Homo sapiens: one gene and its partner. The protein of the gene in region 2 purifies or fractionates together with the protein of the main gene of each other region. This does not show direct contact. Each region holds a gene or a part of one and is shown on either strand. Other genes may lie near its edges.

What was found. Proteins that work in one complex are often made in the same cells at the same time.
Region 1: the proteins of CCT2 (region 2) and WDR76 purify together in Homo sapiens (affinity purification with mass spectrometry; 4 studies listed by BioGRID and IntAct, with this or other methods). This does not show direct contact.

The regions. Positions count from the first base shown.
Region 1 is NC_000015.10:43,851,002-43,854,501, reverse strand, and holds part of WDR76 (WD repeat-containing protein 76), read right to left. Parts: intron 3,416-3,500; coding exon 3,257-3,415; intron 1-3,256. UniProt on the Homo sapiens protein: Specifically binds 5-hydroxymethylcytosine (5hmC), suggesting that it acts as a specific reader of 5hmC.
Region 2 is NC_000012.12:69,595,459-69,598,764, reverse strand, and holds part of CCT2 (T-complex protein 1 subunit beta), read right to left. Parts: intron 1,610-3,306; coding exon 1,490-1,609; intron 1,128-1,489; coding exon 999-1,127; intron 798-998; coding exon 694-797; intron 444-693; coding exon 344-443; intron 1-343. UniProt on the Homo sapiens protein: Component of the chaperonin-containing T-complex (TRiC), a molecular chaperone complex that assists the folding of actin, tubulin and other proteins upon ATP hydrolysis.

The DNA.
Region 1 (3,500 bases), on a different chromosome or scaffold from region 2:
CCCTTCCAGGTTCAAGTGATTCTCATGCCTCAGGCCTCCCAAGTAGCTGGGACCACAGGCGCATGCTACCACGCCCAGCTAATTTTTGTATTCTTTTAGAGGTGCGGTTTCACTATGTTGGCCAGGCTGGTCTTGAACTCCTGAGCTCTAGTGATCCACCCTCCTCGGCCTCTGTCAGTGCTGAGATTACAGGTGTGAGCTACCATGCCCAACCTATTCTTTGTATTATTGCAAATAATGCTTGTATGAACATTCCCGTACAAGTTTTTGTGTGGACATGTGCTTTCATTTCTCTTGGGTGTATACCTAGGAGGGATATTGCTAGGTCATATGGTAACTCTGTTTAACATTTAAGGAACTGTCAAACTTTCCCCAACCAACTTTACCATTTCACATACCAATTCTCAAAATATGAGGGTTTCAATTTTTCCACATCATTGTCAACACTTATTACTGGCAAGTATCGTTATCCTAGTGAGTGTAAAGGGGTATCTCATTGTGATTTGCATTTCCCTAATGAATAATGATGCTTAGAATCTTTTCATGTGCTTATTTGCCATTTGTGGGGTTTTTTTGTTTTTTTTTGTTTTTTTTTTTTGAGACAGTCTCGCTCTGTCGCCCAGGCTGGAGTGCAGTGGTGCAATCTCACCTCACTGCAAACTCCACCTCCCGGGTTCAAGCGATTCTCCTGCCTCAGCGTCCCCAGTAGCTGGGACTACAGGTGCCTGCCACCGCGCCTGGCTAATTTTTGTATTTTTAGTAGAGATGGGGTTTCACCATGTTGGCCAGGCTGGTCTCAAATTCCTGACCTCAGGTGATCCACCCGCCTCAGCCTCCCAAAGTTCTGGGATTACAGGGGTGAGCCACCGCACCCGGTGCCATTTGTGTTTCTTTAAAGAAATGTTTATTCAGATCCTTTGCCCATTTTTTAATTGGGTTAGCTTTTTTAATTAAGCTATAGGAGTTCTCCACCTATTGTTTTAAAGTCAAGCTTATTGAAATGTAAGTTACAGCCAGGCGCGGTGGCTCATGCCTGTAATACCAGCACTTTGGAAGGCCAAGGTGGGCAGATCACTTGAGCTCAGGAGTTTGAGACCAGCCTGGGCAACATGGCAAAACACCGTCTCTACTAAAAATACAAAAATTAGCCAAGCATGGTGACACATGACTATAGTTCCAGCTACTCAGGAGGCTTAGGTGGGAGGATCACGTGAGCCTGGGAGGCAGAGGCTGCGGTGAGCCGAGATCAAGCCACTTCACTCCAGCTGGAGTGACAGAGTGAGACCCCCATCTCAAAAAATAAAAATAAGTAAGGCCAGGCGTGGTGGCTCACACCTGTAATCCCAAGACTTTGGGAGGCCAAGGTGGGTGGATCACCTGAGGTCAGGAGTTCAAGACCAGCCTGGCCAACATGGGGAAACCCTGTCTCTACTAAAAATACAAAAATTAGCCAGGTGTGGTGGCACGTGCCTGTAATCCCAGCTACTCAGGAGGATGAGGCAGGAGAATTGCTTGAACCCGGGAGGTGGAAGTTGCAGTGAGCCAAGATTGCACTGCTGCACTGCAGCCTGGGCAACAAGAGCGAGACTCTGTTTCAAAAATAAATATATAAAGAAAGAATAGAAACACAAATGTTCATCAACTGATGAACAGATGAATAAAATGTGGAATACCCATACAATGGCATATTATGCAGCCATAAAAAGGAATGAAGTACTGATACACGGCTACAACATGGATGAACTTTGAATACATTTTGTTAAAGAAACCAGTCACAAAAGACCACAAATTGTATGATTTCATTTATATGAAATGTCCAGAAGAGGCAAATCTGACCACACACAGTGGCTCACGCTGTAATCCCAGCACTTTGGGAGGCTGAGGCAGGTGGATTACAAGGTCAGGAGTTCGAGACCAGCCTGGTCAACATGGTGAAACCCCGTCCCTACTAAAAATACAAAAATTAGCTTGGCATGGTGGCATGCGCCTGTAGTCCCAGCTACTCAGGAGGCTGAGACAGGAGAATCACTTGAACCTGGGAGGCGGAGCTTGCAGTGAGCCAAGATCGCACCACTGCACTCCAGCCTGGGCGACAGAGTGAGACTCCATCTCTACAACAACAACAACGACGACAACAACAACAACAACAAATTACCCGGGCGTGATGATGGGTGCCTGTAATCCCTGCTACTCAGGAGGCTGAGGCAGAAGAATTGCTTGAACCTGGGAGGCAGAAGTTGCAGTGAGCCGAGATCTCGCCACTGCACTCCAGCCTAGGTGACGAGAGTAAAACTCCGTCTCAAAAAAAATAAAATAAAAAAGTTCAACTTATAAGACTTATCTTATTGAGGCAATCTGATACAGTTAAGCAAATCTGAAAGTTCATTTCAAATGATATGTTTGTTTTAAACATTAAGTAGAAGATGTCTTATTTTGAGAGAGGGTCTCACTCTGTCACCCAGGCTGAAGTGCAATGATGTATGTGATCACGGCTTTACTACAGCCTCAATCTCCTGGGCTCAAGCAATCCTCACACCTCAGCCTCCTGAGTAGCTGTGACTACAGGCACATGCCACCACACCAAGCTAATTTTTTTTAGAGACAAGGTCTTACTATGTTGCCCAGGCTGATCTTGAACTCCTGGGCTCAAGTGATTCTCCCACCTCAGCCTCCTGAGTAGCTGAGACTACAGGCACACACCACCAAGCTCAGCTAATATTTTTTATTTTCTGTAGAGACAAGGTCTCGCCATGTTGCCCAGGCTGGTCTGGAACTCCTGGCCTGAAGTGAGTCTCCCACCTTGGCTTCCCAAAGTGCTGAGATTACAAGCATGAGCCACCACACCCAGCTAAATACAAGTCTTATGCCTAAAAACAGAAGAGTAAGTTATTTTAGTTAAAAGCTTTGGGAGAGAAAAAAAAAAGAAATTTAACAAGCGCAAACACATACTATGTGCCAGGCTCTCTTCTAAGTACTTTATCTGCATAAGCTCATTAAATTCTCATGACAACCCTGTAAGGTCAGTCCTGTTAAATCCCATTTCACAGCTAAGGAAAGTGAGGCACAACAAGGTTAAGCAACTTGTCAAGGTCATACAACTAGTAACAGATGATCTGGGATTTGAACTTAGGCAGCGTAGTTCTCAAAGTCCTTCTGCTATACCACTTCTCCCAATTGGTATAATAATTATTCATGTGGCATTTCGAAGAATCTAGAATATCATCTGAAGTCAGCATGTAAACACATTAACATTTACCTCTTCAAAAATAGCCCTGGAAAAATCCCCACAGCGTAACGTGCCATCATAGCTCAGTGACAGTATGTGGGCCGGATTGGCGGGTGAGAAGTAAAGACAGCTAACTGGCTGACTATGGGGATGAAAAACATAAACTCCATCTTCTTTAGGTTGCTGGGTCTGGAAGAGAGTTGCGGGAAAGGGGAGAGAGAAAAAAACTAGTGAAAAATAGTGATTTTTGCTATGCTATTATGTCATTAAAGAA
Region 2 (3,306 bases):
CTATGAAATTAGAAGTTAATACTGATTGTATAAACAACATAATAGTTTATGTTATTTTTCAGAATGTAAGTATTGTTTATATTTAAATCCTATAGTCGTTATATACCAAATAGTTACAAATCTTCTAACCAGTTTTACATGTCTTATGGAATAACAAAGTTTGGGAAATGCTGAGCATATAAAGTCACACACATTTTCCCAGCACATGTAATGATTATGAGGACAAAGTCCAAAAGAGTCTTTTATACGGTTATTGTAACTCTTTATGTTCCAAAAGAAAAAAAAAGCTTAGTGAAAAGAGTTACTTTTAACAACGGCCACAAAGTTCCCCTTGATTGCTTACCCAATCCAGCAGTGGTATTGCCTTCACTGTGAGCAGCCCTGAGCTGTGCCACCAGGTCTGCACTGTCATAGCCTGCATTGTCAGCTATGATGGTTGGCAACTATGAAAATGAAGAAAACAAGTAACTACTCACTCTACTGTAAGAACCACTGATTTACTCCTAACTAGGATAGCTTTTTAAAATTATACATTTAGGAACAATGTAAAATCTGCTTCAGTTACTGCTCACGAAGAGGAGAAACTCCAGAATCAAATTTAAAAGCAGTATTAACCAGTTCATTTTCTACTCATTTTAAAACTATCAATAACCACAAAACTTAAGTTCGGATCTCTCATTTTGATTAACTTACCATTCTCAGTGCTTTAGCATAAGACTCCATTGCAACAGCTTCTTTGCCTGGTGTTCTATTGGCAAGCTGTGTCACAGCATGAGCCATCAACATCTCAGAACAGCCTAAAGATTAAAATTCCAATAAAATATTGCAATGCTTAGTTGTCTCCAAGATACTGAATTACTGACTTTAAGATATGCCAAGCATTTTAAAATTTAGTGCAAAAGCAATATAAGATTTCTGTAAGAACCATTAAAACCACTTATGACTTATATTGTACTTTAAGAAATTAAAAATATATTCAACATTTTCTAAATGCTTACCTCCTCCATAAACTGTTCTAGAGTCCTTTACAGTTTGCGCAAGAACACAAAGAGCATCATGCAATGATCTTTCTGCTTCATCTAAAATTTGTTGAGTGGCACCACGCAAAACAATGGTACAAGCCTCACCTAAAATTAAAAGACACAGTGACCACTTAGGGATAAAAAGTTTGCCTTCTATTATTTATGCCGGTGTTGGTTATATTACTGGGTTCTGAAAGCTGACCTGTCTTCCTGTATTATACATTCTCCAACAATCAAGGCTCATAATGGTTCTAAGTTATCAAGGAAAAAAAACTGTTGAACATGCACTGTTCACAAAGACACGGTAAATATGAGGTTGACTCAAGAGACTGAAACAAAGTATGTATCATGCTTCTGAAGAGTTAAGACTTGTAAGATATGCTATTCTAGTAACTACAATAACCTTTACTTCAACAGAGCCTAGCAAGAATTTAGACACCCTAACCAGGATCTACATAATCACTCACCAAGGGCAACCCCAGAAAAGTGAATGAGTTTGTCTTCTCCAATCATGACTTCCTCGATAAGTTTGCAACTTCCAAGCTTCACCAGTTCTGGGTGATCAAAGGTAGAGGCAATTTCACCACCTATAAACATAAACATGTATTAGTTAAATGCACAGCAGGCTTAAAATTCCTGTTTTCTAATAAGCAGTAATGGATAGATAATGATAGGTAATGTGTTTCACATTTTAAAAATTGATTGCTGATTATATTCCTGGCACTCTTTTTAAATACTTCATATCGACTAATTATTTAATCTTTAAAATAATCCTCTTGGATAGGCTCCATTATTATCCCATTTTACACATGATAAAAATGAGGCCAAGAGGTTTACCTTCCTATCCAAAGACCTAACTAGGATGAATATAAAAAGCTGGGGTTCAAACTCAAGCAGTCTGGCTTCAGACCTATAAGCACACACTATACAATACTACCTTCCCAAGGTTAAACTGAGTCTTAAAGCAGTTACTTTTGAGTTTAAATTCAGATTCTCTTCTGAATCCAACCTATAAGACTAAGACCTCATGATACAATTCCCAGCACAAGACATGAAAATATTTGTCCTATAAGTCAACCACTATACACTTCATGAACTGCTTAATAAGCACCTGATATCTCTAATTATCACAAATGAAATGTCCTAAGGCCTAAAAAAACAAGAAATGCATACTAAGAATTTCCCAGACCAAATTTAATAAGAACAAATTAATTTAGTCCTTATGTCTCATTTCTATTCCTATTTTCCCTCCATCTTCCATGCTGTAAACTGAACAGGTCAGCCACTTCGTTCCCTATTTCCTAACTAAGCAAAAGTCAGGTTTCCATTTCAAAATCCTTTTCTCTAGCTGACTACTCCTTTCATAATGTGAATTGCATATATTATCAATCAACCCTTCTTTTCCTATGCCTTACTGATAAATCTGTCAATGCTCTATTATTTATTTTATAATAAATTCATAAAGACTCTGGTCTTTGAAACTACTAATTTATACTCATAATTTGTATAAAGTTCTTTTTACTTTTGGCTGGCAAAATTCTGAGACTGCTTTGTGTTCTAGATGTGAGACACAACAGATATTTGGGACGTCATATCCAAAAATAAGACTAACTTGGCTTATGAAACTTTTCACTTCATCCTTCTACATGAGACTTTTCTTTCTTTTTAAAGAGAGAGTGTCTTGCTACCTTGCCTAGACTGGAGCGCAATGACTATTCACCAGGCACCATCATAGCACAACCTCCTGGGCACAAGCAATCTTTCTGCCTCAGCCTCTTGAATAGATCAAACTGCTGGCACATGCCACCATGCCCAGTGCAAGACATTTATTTAATGACACTTGCAAGAACCAATGTCATCATACACCTTTGACAACCACTGAGCTTTTAAGGATGGGAGCCACCATGTGGTCACCTTCATAGACATACAGTTGGTGTACTTAATAAACATTCTTCTGGGTATAGAGCAATTTCATGTCAAGACCTTACGATATGTTTATCCCATCAATATATTATTACCATTTACTTCTTACATCTTTTTTTTTTTTTTTTTTTGAGACGGAGTCTCGCTCTGTCACCCAGGCTGGAGTGCAGTGGCGCCAATCTCAGCTCACTGCAACCTCCACCTCCCGGGTTCAAGTGATTCTCCTGCCTCAGCCTCCCGAGTAGCTGCGACTACAGGCACCCACCACCACGCCTGGCTAATTTTTTTATTTTTAGTAGAGACAGGGTTTCACCATATTGACCAGGCTGGTCTCAAACTCCAGACCTTGTGATCTGCCCAC